Linked DNA regions of Homo sapiens. The protein of the gene in region 2 purifies or fractionates together with the protein of the main gene of each other region. This does not show direct contact. Each region holds a gene or a part of one and is shown on either strand. Other genes may lie near its edges.

What was found.
Region 1: the proteins of NPM2 (region 2) and MTG2 purify together in Homo sapiens (affinity purification with mass spectrometry; 2 studies listed by BioGRID and IntAct, with this or other methods). This does not show direct contact.

The regions. Positions count from the first base shown.
Region 1 is NC_000020.11:62,199,532-62,205,029, forward strand, and holds the end of MTG2 (mitochondrial ribosome-associated GTPase 2), read left to right. Parts: intron 1-1,151; coding exon 1,152-1,546; 3' UTR 1,547-3,552; coding exon of another isoform or gene 3,553-3,710; 3' UTR 3,711-4,037; downstream 4,038-5,498. UniProt on the Homo sapiens protein: Plays a role in the regulation of the mitochondrial ribosome assembly and of translational activity. Displays GTPase activity. Involved in the ribosome maturation process.
Region 2 is NC_000008.11:22,019,047-22,027,921, forward strand, and holds the start of NPM2 (nucleoplasmin-2), read left to right. Parts: upstream 1-5,087; 5' UTR 5,088-5,577; intron 5,578-5,677; 5' UTR 5,678-5,784; exon of another isoform or gene 5,785-6,169; 5' UTR 6,170-6,202; coding exon 6,203-6,260; intron 6,261-6,389; coding exon 6,390-6,475; intron 6,476-6,600; coding exon 6,601-6,726; intron 6,727-8,875. UniProt on the Homo sapiens protein: Core histones chaperone involved in chromatin reprogramming, specially during fertilization and early embryonic development. Probably involved in sperm DNA decondensation during fertilization.

The DNA.
Region 1 (5,498 bases), on a different chromosome or scaffold from region 2:
GCTACTTGGGAGGCTGAGGATGGAGAATGGCATGAACCCAGAAGGCAAAGCTTGCAGTGAGCCGAGATCATGCCACTGCACTCCAGCCTGGGCGACAGAGCGAAACTCCATCTCAAAAAAAAAAAAAAAAAAGTAGCATTGTTTTTCCTAATGTAAACAACTTTTTTTTTTTTTTTTTTTTGAGACGGAGTCTCACTCTGTCACCCTGGCTGGAGTGCAGTGGTGCGATCTCAGCTCACTGCAACCTCCACCTCCCATATTTAAGTGATTCTCCTGCCTCAGCCTCCCAAGTAGCTGGGATTACAGGCGTGCGCCACCACGCCCAGTTAATTTTTTTGTATTTTTAGTAGAGACGGGGTTTCACCATGTTGGCCAGGCTGGTCTCGAACTCCTGATCTCAAGTGATCTGCCCCCCGCCCCACCTTGGTCTCCCAAAGTGTTGGGATTACAGGCGTGAGCTACTGCACCTGGCCCTAATTTAAACAATTTTCATCAGCCTGTTCTCTATGAAAATCAGGTTCCCACCCCATCCCCTAGGAATCTGTCAGTTACAGTTCAGAAACCTGCATTGAAATTCCAGCCGAGGACAGTATTTCTTCCCACTCTATTTGTCCCCTCTCATCTGTGGAAGCTCAGCAGCATCACAACACGTGACTTAAAAGCTTTCCTTGTGCCGTTTGAGAGAATAAAACTTTTTCCCAGAAGACAATACACCCATTAAAAATAGTAAGCCTGCTGGTAAGGTTATTTGGATGGCACTTTATATCTGCAGAGTACTCTACATGTAAATTTCTATCAGTAATCAAATGATTAGTAGAGTACAGGCAGCCATTTTCCTCTTTTTTGAATCCTATTAGAAGCAGAAAGAGAAGGTATGAAATGTACTCTACTAGATAGATCCATCGCCACGCTGGTCTCCCAAACATCTCCAAGCATTGAATTCCTCAGGTGTCAGTTGGCCCAGTGAATCACCCAGGTGCTAAATCAAATGGCTTCAGTTCAAGGCGTTCCTTGAAAGGAAAGTGTTAGAACTCAGGAAATCCGCCTTCGCAGTGGGCTCCAGGCCTTCTCTCCCAGGCTCGAGGTGGAAGGCGCTCTTGGGTGCTGGGTGTGCCAAGTGGTCACCTCGTGTGCCCCTGTCTTCCCTGCAGTGGCCGACATCCCCGGCATCATACGAGGCGCCCACCAGAACAGGGGTCTGGGGTCCGCCTTCCTCAGGCACATCGAGCGCTGCCGCTTTCTCTTGTTCGTGGTGGATCTTTCTCAGCCTGAGCCGTGGACTCAAGTTGACGATTTAAAATATGAACTGGAGATGTATGAAAAGGGCCTGTCTGCGAGGCCCCACGCAATCGTCGCAAACAAGATTGACCTCCCTGAAGCCCAAGCCAATCTGTCCCAGCTCCGGGATCACTTGGGACAGGAGGTCATCGTGCTGTCGGCGTTGACCGGCGAGAACCTGGAGCAGCTGCTGTTGCACCTGAAGGTGCTGTATGACGCCTACGCGGAGGCCGAGCTGGGCCAGGGCCGCCAGCCGCTCAGGTGGTAGCCACGCCAGAGCGGGGTCGCCTCTGGGCCTCTGTCTGAGCAAACCTGGGTGTGAATTCGGTGGTTTTGAATGCATAAAGTGCCTTGTGGACACGGGGGAGTTGTGGTGCTTCTGGGTCTCTGGGCCCCGCCTGCTGGCCTGAGATGCCCTCATGTTGGGAAGCATTCCGTGCCCCCTACCCCGCCTGCCCTCCGTATTTCCTGCACCTGTCAGCCTGCACCGACTGATGAGCCAGTTGCTCATTTGTGCTGATTAACACCCCTAATAAGGGGTTGGGGTGCCCATAACGGGGTGGCCCTGCCGCTGACTCAGGTCTCCGCCATGCACGCGTGGACTCTCGGATGAGCTCAGCAGAACCGCACAGCCAGAGCCCCAGGTCAGAAGTGCAGACCAGGGTTCTCAGCACAGTGCCCGTCGTGCTTCCATGGCTTGCTACGGAGAGAGACCTCTGGATCCACACTGGGGCTGCGTCTGGCCCGTTGTCCAGCAGCCCTGCGGTACCGCAAGCCCAGGCACCAGTGTCTCGGGGGGCCTCACTGCTGCGCAAGGGGTGGGGCCGAGGATGCAAGTCCAGGCAGAGCGGCGCAGGCAGCTGTGAGCTTTTCTCCATCAGCCGTCTGAGAAGAGCAGTGAGGCCAGCTGCTTCCTGTCCTTCAGAACACTTCTCTGTGCTCAGTGGGAGCCAGGAAGCCTCAGGCTTCACGACTGAATGCACCCAATATCCGACCTGGCTGCGTGTTTCTGGCTGGGCTGCCGTGTGCACAGCAAGTTAACTAGAGGGGCTGTGGGCCATGGAACTGTCAGCGTTATTCTCAGAAGGCGGCCGTGGCATGGGCAGGGTATAGTGAGGAGTGGAAGGAGACGTGTGCCTGGTAATATGGGGCGGAATTTCCACTCAGCTCCATTTGCTGGGGATTTAAAGAGAACCCTTGTGCTACGCCAGGCAGTTACCGAGCCGAAGGGAGATGATGGGCCTTCGCCCCTCAGTGGGATGGCAGCTGAGGGGGCCCTGCATTTGACCGTCGAGACTGCAGCAGCGCCTTTCCTGTCTGTGGTTTAAGTCTTTGCAGTCAAGTACTGATGCATCCAAGCCAGGCCCATGCCTGGTGTCTCCCTGACTGCAGAGGAGCCCCAGGGCAAGGACAGCTCAGCTGCTGGCAGCCTGCCTGGCCCATAGACATCCCCCAAGTAGTCTCAGGCCTCTGACATGTCCCTGAGGGGCCCCTAAGAAAGAAAGTGGAGGGGACACTCCAGAGGCTGTCGTGGGAGGATCATGTGAGCCTGGGAGGTCAAGGCTGCAGTGAGCCGTGATTGCACCACTGCACTCCAGCCTGAGTGACAGAGCGAGACCCTGTCTCAAAAAACAAACAAACAAACAAACAAAAACAGAACATTCTGGGCACGGTGGCTCATGCCTGTAGTCCCAGCACTTTGGGAGGCCGAGGCTGGTGGATCACAAGGTCAGGAGATTGAGACCATCCTGGCTAACACAGTGAAACCCCGTCTCTACTAAAAATACAAAAAAATTAGCCAGGCGTGGTGGCGGTCACCTGTAGTCCCAGCTACTCGGGAGGCTGAAGCAGGAGAATGGCGTGAACCTGGGAGGCGGAGCTTGCAGTGAGCCGAGATCACACCACTGCACTCCAGCCTGAGCGACAGAGCAAGACTCCATCTCAAAAAAAAAAAAAAAGTGGAGGGGACAAAGAAGCAGAGAAGGATGATCAGAAGGGGACCCCCAGCCCTTGGAGGAGAGACGGCAGCCTCAGGTGAGATGAGCCGCAAGGGTCCGGGGCCGCGTCTCTGCACGCTGGGGTGGGGCGCGCTTTGCACAGCAGGCCGGTGCCTGGGCTTTCAGGAGCAATTCCGTTTTGATCTCACATCAAATCTGCAGCTAGAACATGACAGTCCTTTTACCCGAAGCTTTATTTTAATGTCTTATAATTTCAAAGGTCCTTCTATCCTAGAAACCAGAGATGGGTTTTGCATCTATTTGCTTTTTCTTTCAGGCCGCCACAAAGGATTTTGTGGAGTCGCCCCAGGCCTGACGGCGTTAATTATCCCTGGCTTTCATCTTGATGCTCTTGCAGGGGAGGCTCAAGATGCCTTGTGGCTCGACCCCTGCACGGAGCCCCCAGCCCAGCCTCCCCGTGGGTTGAAACCTTGATCTGGGCCTGACTGTGGCTGCTCTGGGGACATGCCCTCGTCCTTTGCTGAAGCTGAGGCTCCAGAGGGGGAGTCACTGCCACGAAGGTTGCCCAGAACTTTCCTTGCTGCAAAAAGCCCCAAGACTTCTCCCTGCCACACACACAGCTTTTGCCATCGCGTTCTAAAAGCTGACAGCTTTCTCTCCAACACTGTTCTCCCTGAGTAGGGTAAAGCTACACTTGGCTTCCCCAGTTTCCTGTTTCCTGCCTAGAAACAAATTTTTGTCAGTCTGCTTTTCAAATGGGATATATGATTCACATACCATAAAATTCACCACTTTATATAATTCAGTGGTTTTTTTGTATGTTCAGAAGGTTGTGCAACTGTCAAACTGCAAATTCCAGAACGTTTTCATCACCCCGAAAACAGACCCTGTGCCCGTTAGCGTGAACCCGCCTTCCCCCTCCCCCGGGCACCCACCCGTCTACCTTCTGTCCCCAGGGACCTGCCTTCCAGACAGATCCTGTAATTGGAGTGTACACTATGTGGCCGTCTGTGCGGGTCTTTAGTAGCCATGCCTGAGGCGGCCGACACCGCAGTCTTTAGTTACGGAAGGGACCGCGGGTGCAGGCCAACCCCCCCACAGTCAGCATGTGTGGGCTGCCTTGGACACAGGGTCTCTGTGTATCCCCAGCAGCCTCAGAACACCTGACCCAGAGACGGCGTCAGTAAGCGCTGGCAGGTGCACGGAGGATGGCGCTGGCATGAGGAGCCTTCAGGCTGCTCCTAGTTTTAAACTATTTTTACTTTTGTTTTTATTTTTTTAAGACAGAGTCTCACTCTTTCGCCCAGGCTAGAGTGCAGTGGTGCGATCTCGGCTCACTGCAACCTCTGCCTCCTGGGTTCAAGCGATTCTCCTGCCTTAGCCTCCCAAGTAGCTGGGATTACAGCCTGCACCACCACGCCTGGCTGATTTTTGTATTTTTAGTAGAGACAAGGTTTCACCATGTTGGCCAGGCTGGTCTCGAACCCCTGACCTCAGGTGATCTGCCCACTTTGGCCTCCCAAAGTGCCGGGATTACCGGCATGAGCCACTGCGCCTGGCCTGAAACTCAGTGTGTGTGTGTGTGTGTGTGTGTGTGTGTGTGTGTGTGTGTGTGTGTGTGTGTGAGAGAGAGAGAGAGAGAGAGAGAGAGAGAGAGAGAGATGGAGTCTCACTCTGTCACCCAGGCTGGAGTGCAGTGGCGCGATCTCCACTCACTGCAACCTCCGACTCCTGGGTTCAAGCAGTTCTCCTGCCGCAGCCCAGGTGGGGTGGAGTCTGGGTGCCCTGGGGCCCTGCCACCTTCCACTTGGACACGGGCGAGGAGGGGTTTGCCCTGAGCATCCCCTGTAGAAGCCCAGCTCCACAGCAGCGCTGTAGGAAAACGTAGTGTGTCCATTTGAAAATGAAGTTTTATCTATTCCTTATTAGTCTCCTGGGGCTGCTATGACAAAGTGCCACAAACCGGGTGACTTAACAGAAGTTGGCCGAGCATGGGGGCTTACACCTGTCATCTAGCGCTGTGGGAGGCCGAGGCGGCCGGATCACCTGGGGTCAGGAGTTTAGGACCAGCCTGGCCAACATGGTGAAACCCCATCTCTACTAAAAAATATGTAAAAATTAGCTAGGGGTGGTGGCCCATACCTGTAGTCCCAGCTACCCAGGAGGCTGAGGCAGGAGAATCGCTTGAACCCCTGATCACTTGAGCCAAGATTGCGCCACTGCACTCCATCCTGGGCGACACAGTGAGACTCTGTCTCAAGA
Region 2 (8,875 bases):
GCTTGAGCCCAGAAGGCAAAAGTTACAGTGAGCCAAGATCACGCCCCTGCACTCCAGCCTGGGCATCAGAGTAAGACTCTGTCTCAAAACAAAATAAAACAATAGGCCGGGCACGGTGGCTCACACCTGTAATCCCAGCACTTTGGGAGGCCGAGGTGGGCAGATCACGAGGTCAGGAGATCGAGACCATCCTGGCTAACACGGTGAAACCCCGTCTCTGCTAAAAATCCAAAAAAAAATGGCTGGGCGCCATGGCAGGCGGCTGCAGTCCCAGCTACCCGGGAGCCTGAGGCAGGAGAATGGCGTGAACCCAGGAGGCGGAGCTTGCAGTGAGCAGAGATCGCGTCACTGCACTCCAACCTGGGCAACAGAGTGACACTCTGCCTCAAAAATAAATAAATAAATAGGCCGGGTGCGGTGGCTTACGCCTGTAACCCAGCACTCTGGGAGGCTGAGGCAGGTGGATCACCTTAGGTCAGGAGTTCAAGACCAGCCTGACCAGCATGGAGAAACCCCATCTCTCCTAAAAATACAAAATTAGCCAGGTGTGGTGGCACATGCCTGTAATCCCAGCTACTCCGGAGGCTGAGGCAGGAGAATTGCTTGAGCCCGGGAGGTGGAGATTGTGGTGAGCCGAGATCGTGCCATTGCACTCCAGCCTGGGCAACAAGAGCAAAATTCCATCTCAGAAAATAAATAAATAAATAAACAAATAAAACAAAACAATAAAATAAAAAGAAATTGGAAAAGAAGAAGTCAAATTGTCTCTCTTTGCAGACATGATCTTATGTATAGAAAAGCCTAAACAATCCACTGAAAAAACTCCTAGAACTGATAAACAAATTCAGTGAAGTTGCAAGATACAAAAATCAACATATGAAAATCAGTAGCATTTCTATACACCAATAATAAAATAGAAAAGAAATCAAGAAAGTGATCCCATTTACAAGAGCTACAAAAAATAAAGTCCCAAGGAATAAAAGTTAGCCAAGGAAGTGAAGGACCTCTACAACAAAAACTACAAAACACTGATGAAGGAAATTGGAAAGGTCACAAAAAAGTGGAAAGACATCCCATGCTCATGGATTGGAAAAATTAATATTGTTAAAATGGCCATACTACGGCTAGGCACGATGATTCGTGCCTATAATCCCAGCACTGTGGGAGGCCTAGGAGGGAGGATCACTTGAGCCTAGGAGTTCAAGACAAGCCTGAGCAACATAACGAGACACAACAAAAAAATTTTAAAAATTAGCCAGGCATGGTGGTACACACCTTGCAGTCCCAGCTACTCAGGAGGCTGAGGCAGGAGGATTGCTTGAGCCCAGGAGTTCAAGGTTACAGTGAGCTATGATTGTGCCTCTGCACTCCAGCCTGGGCAACAGAGCGAGACCCTGCCTGAAAAATAAATAAATAAATTTTTAAAATAAGAAATAAAAATAAAATTAAATTTAAAAGGCCATACTACCCAAAGCAATCTACAGATTCAGCGCAATCCCTATCAAAATAGCAACGACACTCTTCACAGAAACAGAAAAAACAATCCTAAAATTTGTATAGAATCACAAAAGACTCCAAATAGCCAAAGCAATACTAAGCAAAAAGAATAGAGCTGGAGGCATCACCCTACCTGAGTTCGAAATATACTACAGGGTGGGCAAGCACATGCCTGTAATCCCAACACTTTTGGAGGCCAACGTGGGTGGATCACTTGAGCAGAGGAGTTTGAGACCAGCCTGGACAACATGGAGAAACCCCATCTCTACCAAAAAAAAAATAGTAGCCAGGCATTATGGCACACACCTATAGTCCCAGCTACTTCAGAGGCTGAGGTGGGAGAATCACTTGAGTCCAGGAGGTGGAGGCTGCAGTGAGCTGAAATTGCTACTGTACTCCAACCTGGGACATAGAGCAAGACCCTGCCCCAAATATAAATATAAATATTATACACTACAAAGCTATAGTAACAAAACAGCATGGTATTGGTATAAAAACAGACACAGACCAATGGAAAAAAATGGAGAACCCAGAAATAAATCTATGTACTTACCACAAACTGATTTTTTGACAAAGGCACCAAGAACATACACTGGGAAAAGGACATCTTCTTTAATAAATGGTGCTGGGAAAACTGGATATTGATAAGAAGAAGAAAAGTAGACCCCATCTGTCATCACATACAAAAATCAATTCAAAATGGATTAAAGACTTAAACATAAGGCCTGAAACTATAAAACTACTAGAAGAAATCCTAGGGGAAATGCTTCAGGACATGGGTCTAGGCAAAGATTTTATGGCTAAGACTTCAAAAGCACAGGCAACAAAAACAAAAATAGACAAATAAGACTATATTAAACCAAAAACGTCTGCACCGCAAAGAAACAGTCAACAGAGTTAAGAGACAACCTGCAGAATGGGAGAAAATATTTGCAAATTATTCATCTAACAAGGGACTAATATCCAGAATATACAAGGAATACAAATGACTCAACAGCAAAAAACAAACATAATATTAAGTGGGCAAAGGACATGAATAGACATTTCTCAAAAGAAAACAAATGGCCAACAGGCATACGAAAAAATGCTCAGCTGGGTGCAGTGGCTCACACCTGTAGTCCCAACACTTTGGGAGGCTGAGGTGGGCGGATCACAAGGTCAAGAGATCGAGACCATCCTGGCCAACAGGGTGAAACCCAGTCCCTACTAAAAATACAAAAATTAGCTGGGCATGGTGGCAAGCACCTGTAGTCACAGCTACTCGGGAGGCTGAGGCAGAATTGCTTGAACCCATGAAGCAGAGGTTGCAGTGAGTCAAGATCATACCACTGCTCTCCAGCCTGGTGACAGAGCGGGACTCCGTCTCAAAAAAAAAAAAAAAAAAAAAAAAAAAAAAAAAAAAAAAAGCTCAACATCACTAATCATCAGAGAAATGCAAATCAAAACCACAATGAGATATCATCTCACCTCAGTTAGAATGGCTGTTATCAAAAAGACAAATGCTGGCGAGGATGTGCAGAAAAGGGAACTCATACACTGTTGTTGGGAATTAAGTTAATACAGCCATTATGGAAAGTAGTATGGAGGTTTCTCAAAAAACTAAAAATTGAACTATCACATGATTCAAACAGTTCCACTACTGGGATAAATAACCCTAGAAATCCTGATTCCTAGGGAATCGGTACCTGATTTCCTTTCCTTTGGATAAATAATCCAGGAGTGGGATTGCTGGATCATATGGTAGTCCTATTTTTAGTTTTTTGAGAAATCTCCTTACTTCTCTCCGTAATGGAAATCAGTATCCAAATGAAAGGAGGGATATCTGCACGCCCTTGTTTACTGCAGCACTATTCCAAGAGCCAAGATATGGAATCAACCTAAGTGTCCATCAACAGGTGAATGGAAAAAGAAAATGTGGTACCTATACACAATGGAATATATCCAGCCATAAAAAAAATATGGAAGCCCTGTCATTTGCAGCAATATGGGTGGAACTGGAGGTCATTATGTTATGTGAAACAAGCCAGACACAAAAAGACAAATTTCACATGTTCTCACTCATGTGAGAGCTAAAAAAAAAAAAAAAAAAAAAAAAAAAAAAAAAAAAAAAGTAGAATTAATGGGAGTAGAGAGTAGAATGATGGTTACTAGAGGCTGGGAAGTGGGGGTGGGGGGAGGATGAACAGAGGTTGATTAATGGGTACAAACATACTGTTTGATGGAAATAAGATAAGTTGAAATAAGAAATAAGTTGATAGTACAGTAGGGTGACTATAGTTAACAATAATTTATTGTATATTTCAAAATAGCTAGAAGAGAAGATTTGAAATGTTTCCAACACAAAGAAATGATAAATGTTTAGCCGGGCCCAGTGGCTCATGCCTGTAATCCCAGCACTTTGGGAGGCCTAGGCAGGAGGATCACTGAGGTCAGGAGTTCGAGACCAACCTGGCCAACATGGTGAAACCCCATCTCTAGTAAAAATATGAAAATTAGCTGGGCATGGTGGTAAGCACCTATAAACCCAGCTACTTGGGAGGCTGAGGCAGGAGAATCGCTTGAACATGGGAGGCAGAGGTTATAGTGAGCTGAGATGGCACCACCGCACTCCAGCCTGGGTGATGAGAGTGAAACGCCATCTCCAAAAAAAAAAAAAAAAGAAAAGAAATAATGTTGAAGGTACCCCAGTTACCCTGATTTGCTCATTACACATTGTGTGCAAGTATAAAAATATCATATGTACCCCATAAATATGTACAATTAATATGTATCAGTTTAAAAAGTTAATGACGATGGTACCAATATTATAGCCTCATTTAGCAGATGAGGAAACTGAGGCACTGAGCTATGAATTAACACACCTGAAATCACAGAGCACAGTCCAGACTTGAACCCAGACTGTCCAGTTCCAGTGTCCCAGCTCTAGGTCATGACCTCAGGGTCATCCCCCTCCCCTGCCTCCATTTAGCCTTCACTGTGACCCCCAGCTGCAGCCTGACATCAGTGTGATTATTCACGGGGTGGGTAGCCTGGGGCCACTGAAGGCCGGTTTGCTTTGAGCACTGCTCTCCAATGAGGCTGGAAGCCCTTTGAGGGGCTGTCGTATTCACCGCGGGATGCCCAGGTCCCGCCCAATTGGCGGAATCACCGTTTGTTGAGTGAATTCTTGAACGTCTGTGCATGGCATGCATGTGCCTGCCATTTGCTCATCTTTACCACACACTTGGCTGCAATGGCTGTCACCTTCAATAGGCGCCTTGCCAGGGACAGAGAGCTCAGGGACAGCCAAGGAGACTGGAACTGCTCAGCTGGGGATAGGGAGCCTAGGGGGCCCTGGCAGGCCCCCAAGCCTCTCCTGGGTTGTCCTGGCCAATTCACAGGGAGGCTGACCCCAGCTTCCAGGAATAAAAGATTCTGACCTCTCCGTGGCAATGAGCCCCTGTCCCAGGGGTGTGCGGGAGATCCCTGGTTATCTGAGGTGTCTCCAGGGTATATCCGCTGAAACCCCACTTCCTCTTCACTGCCCACTGAGCCTGGGACCAGCTGCTGGTCACGTGCTTGGCCCTGTAGCGTCGCTAGCCGTGCTCCTCAGTGTGCTCCCCGCCCCCTGCCGCGGCGCCTCGCCTCCCGGCTCACCTCCCCACCCCACCTGCCCGCTGCGGCTCTCCGCGGGAGATCTCACCGTTCTGGAGACAGGGCTCGCTCGCTCTCACGGTAGGCTGGAAGAACGGGCTGTCTGGGCCTTAGGAAAGGCCCATGCTGTATAAGGCATGGGGAAAGGAAAGGAAGAAAGGCAACGAACAAGAAGGAGGGCTTCCAACTGCAGCTTCCTGCCGGCTGCAGGCCTCCCTTCCTAAGCTGAGCTGAGGCTTCCTCTCCATGGGCTGGGGAGGGGGCGCCAGGAGGCCTCGGCGGGTCCGCAATTGGCCGGGACAGCTTCTCACGAAAGGTCCTGGGCCGGCATCATCAGCCTCACCTGGGAACTGGTTAGAACTACAAATTCCCTCGGCCCCACCCAGACCGACGCCAAGGGCAGCTGTGGAGTGGGGCGCGGCAATGCGCCCCTTAACAGCCCTCCAGGTGATTCTGCCGCGCAGAGGAGGAAAGAATGGGAGAAGGGAAGGGGAGAGGGAGGCGGCTTCTTTGCGACTAATTGGACACCTGCCCTTCCCCTTCCCAGGCTTCTTAGCCCGGGCTTGGACAGCCGCCTTCCGGCCAGAGGGGATGAGGTTGCGCTGCGCTCCGGGAGCGCCGATGGCGTGACTGGCCCCGCGCGGAGCAGCGACAGTAAGGCTGTGTGGGGGGAGCTGGGACCTAAGCCGCGCGCACACCCCTTTCTCTGCGTCTGGTGGAGGTGCACAGAGGCTTTTGAGTCAGGCCCAAGCGCAGCCAGGTGACCTCCCCGCGGCCTTTCAAGCCTGAGCTCGGTGGACAGCTCCCTCTCCCGTGAGTCCCGCTGTCCTGTACGCGCCCGGTCGAGCCCCGGGCTGCGCACCCCGCTAGGAGGTGGGTACTCGTCCTCCAGGAGTTGCCGGTGAGCCCTTGACCGTGGCAGGTCCCCTCCAGCCGCGAGCGACCCCTCAGTACCTGCCGATGCCTGCTGGTCTCTGGCATCCTCCAGTCGAGGGTCAGGGTCAGGGAGCAAGGCCTCACGCGGGCGCCCTCCTTGCAGCTGCCCGGCCAGCCCGCTTCTCTGCCCGGAGCCATGAATCTCAGTAGCGCCAGTAGCACGGAGGAAAAGGCAGTGACGACCGTGCTCTGGGGTGAGTGGGGACTCAGGCTCCTTCCCAGAGACACGCCCCACCTCCGGTGCGCGGCAGCTTGGGGCGCAGGTGAGCCCCTCCTTTGGGAACGAATGGAGGGCCCCACTTCCCTCCCTTTCTCCTCCGCAGGCTGCGAGCTCAGTCAGGAGAGGCGGACTTGGACCTTCAGACCCCAGCTGGAGGGGAAGCAGAGCTGCAGGCTGTTGCTTCATACGGTAGGTGTTCCCAAAAGAGGGGAGGAAGATGGTGTCCGGGAACTTTCTGGTCCCAACGGAGGGCTATGGATTTCTCCCGTCGGCCCTCAGGGTGATGAGGGGCCTCTATTTTCAACCCCGCTCAGATTTGCTTGGGGGAGAAAGCCAAAGAGGAGATGCATCGCGTGGAGATCCTGCCCCCAGCAAACCAGGAGGACAAGAAGATGCAGCCGGTCACCATTGCCTCACTCCAGGCCTCAGTCCTCCCCATGGTGCGCATTTCCCTGCTGGCTGGAAGACTGCTGTCAGCCTCACCCTCACCCTTGGGTGGGGATGGACACACACGAGGGTGCATTCACCCTACAGAAATGAGCCATGCTAGGGAGGTAGCACAGCCCATGCAGAAAGCCGGGGTCCAGCCCAGCTCACCCCTTCCTAGAGCTGTGTGACCTTGGGCCAGTTAAGCTGTCTGCAAAAATTACACTTTAAACCAGGGGTCCCCAACTGCCGGGTCAAGGACCAGAACTCGTCCTGTTAGGAACCAGGCAGCACAGCAGGAGGTGAGCAGCCAGCTAGCCAGCATTACCCCTGAGCCCTGCCTCCCGTCAGATCAGAGCGGCATTAGATTCTCAGAGGAGCATGAACCCTATGGTAAGCTGTGCGTGCGAGGGGTCTAGGTTGCATGCTTCTTATGAGAATCGAATGCCTGATCTGAGGTGGAGCAGTTTCATCCCAAAACCACCCCCCACTCCCACCCCATCCATGCAAAAATTGTCTTCCAGGAAACCATTCCCTGGTTCCACAATGATTGGAGACTGCTGCTTTAAACCATTCACTGCTAGTGACAGGAACATGGTCGATCTACATATTGGTTGTGCATCCAGAAATTCTCTAGTTTCTAATAACTTAAGTTTTCTATGCATATAATAATTGTGAATAATGGCAGTTCTTGCCTTTTTTTTTTTTTTTTTTGAGATGGAGTTTCACTCTGTCACCCAGGCTGGAGTGCAGTGGTGCAATCTCAGCTCACTGCAATTTCTGCCTCCCAGGTTCAAGCAATTCTAGTGCCTCAGCCTTCGGAGTAGCTGGGATTACAGGTGTGCACCACCATGCCTGGCTAATTTTTGTATTTTTAGTAGAGACAGGGTTTCACAATGTTGCCCAGGCTAGTCTCGAACTCCTGACCTCAGGTGATTCGCCCGCCTTGGCCTCCCGAAGTGCTGGGATTACAGGCGTGAGTCACCACGCCAGGTCTTTTTTCTTTCTTTCTTTCTTTTAATCCTACTGCACTGGCTAGGCCCTGCAGTGGAATATTGGGTGAACATGAGATCAGGTCTGACATCCTTATTTCCTTCTTGTTTTTTAAAAAAGAAGCATTTGGTAAGTACATTTTGTCAGGTTAAGGAAGTCCCCATCTAAAACCCTCTGCTTTTAAAAAATTGCTTTGCTTTGAAATCACTAGAGGGGGTTAAATTTTACCAAATGCTTTTCTATTCATATGATTCTAGGTTCTTTAGTCCACGTGGTAAATTATATGAAGATAATAATATCTGAGTTCCTTTGCCATCCTGGGATAAATACTACTGGTCATGTTACAAATTCTAGATTTGTTTTACTCATATATTGAGCCCTTTTTTTTACCTGTATACATGTGAGGTTGGCCTATAAGTGATAGTATTTAGGTGTTCAGGACATGCTAGCCTCATGCACTGAGGGTGGAGGGTTCTCTCCTATTCCCTGGAACAGTGAATGGAAGACTAGGATCAGCTGTCCTTGGAGGTTTGGGAGACCCCTCTGTCAAACTGCCCTCAGACTTTCCTGTTCTATTTACACATACTTTGCAGGCGATCTCATCCTTTCCTGTGGTTTTCAAGACCATCTAAACAAATGAAGACTCAGGAACTTATTTCTGTAAACTCAACCTCTCTTGAGCTCCAAGTCCTATATCCAACTAAATGGCTTTGATAGATATCTAATAAATATCCCAAATTTAACATGTCTAAATCCACATATTCAATTTTTATCTCTAATCCACCCGCCTCCCCTTCAACCTGATTTTCTCTCAGAAAACAGCTGTTTTTCCAGTTAGCCAAGACAAAGCTCTTTTTTTTTTTTTTTCCCCTGAGATGGAGTTTCACTCTTATCACCCAGGCTGGAGTGCAATGGTGCGCTCTCGGCTCACTGCAACCTCCGCATCCCATGTTCGAGTGATTCTCCCATCTCAGCCTCCCAAGTAGCTGGGATTACAGGCATGTTCCACTACGCCAGGCTAATTTTTGTAATTTTAGTAGAGATGGGTTTTTGCCATGTTGGTCAGGCTGGTCTCGAACTCCTGACCTCAGGTGATATACCCGCCTTGGCCTCCCAAAGTGCTGGATTTACAGGCATGAGCCACCACACCCAGCCAAATCCTCTTTTTTC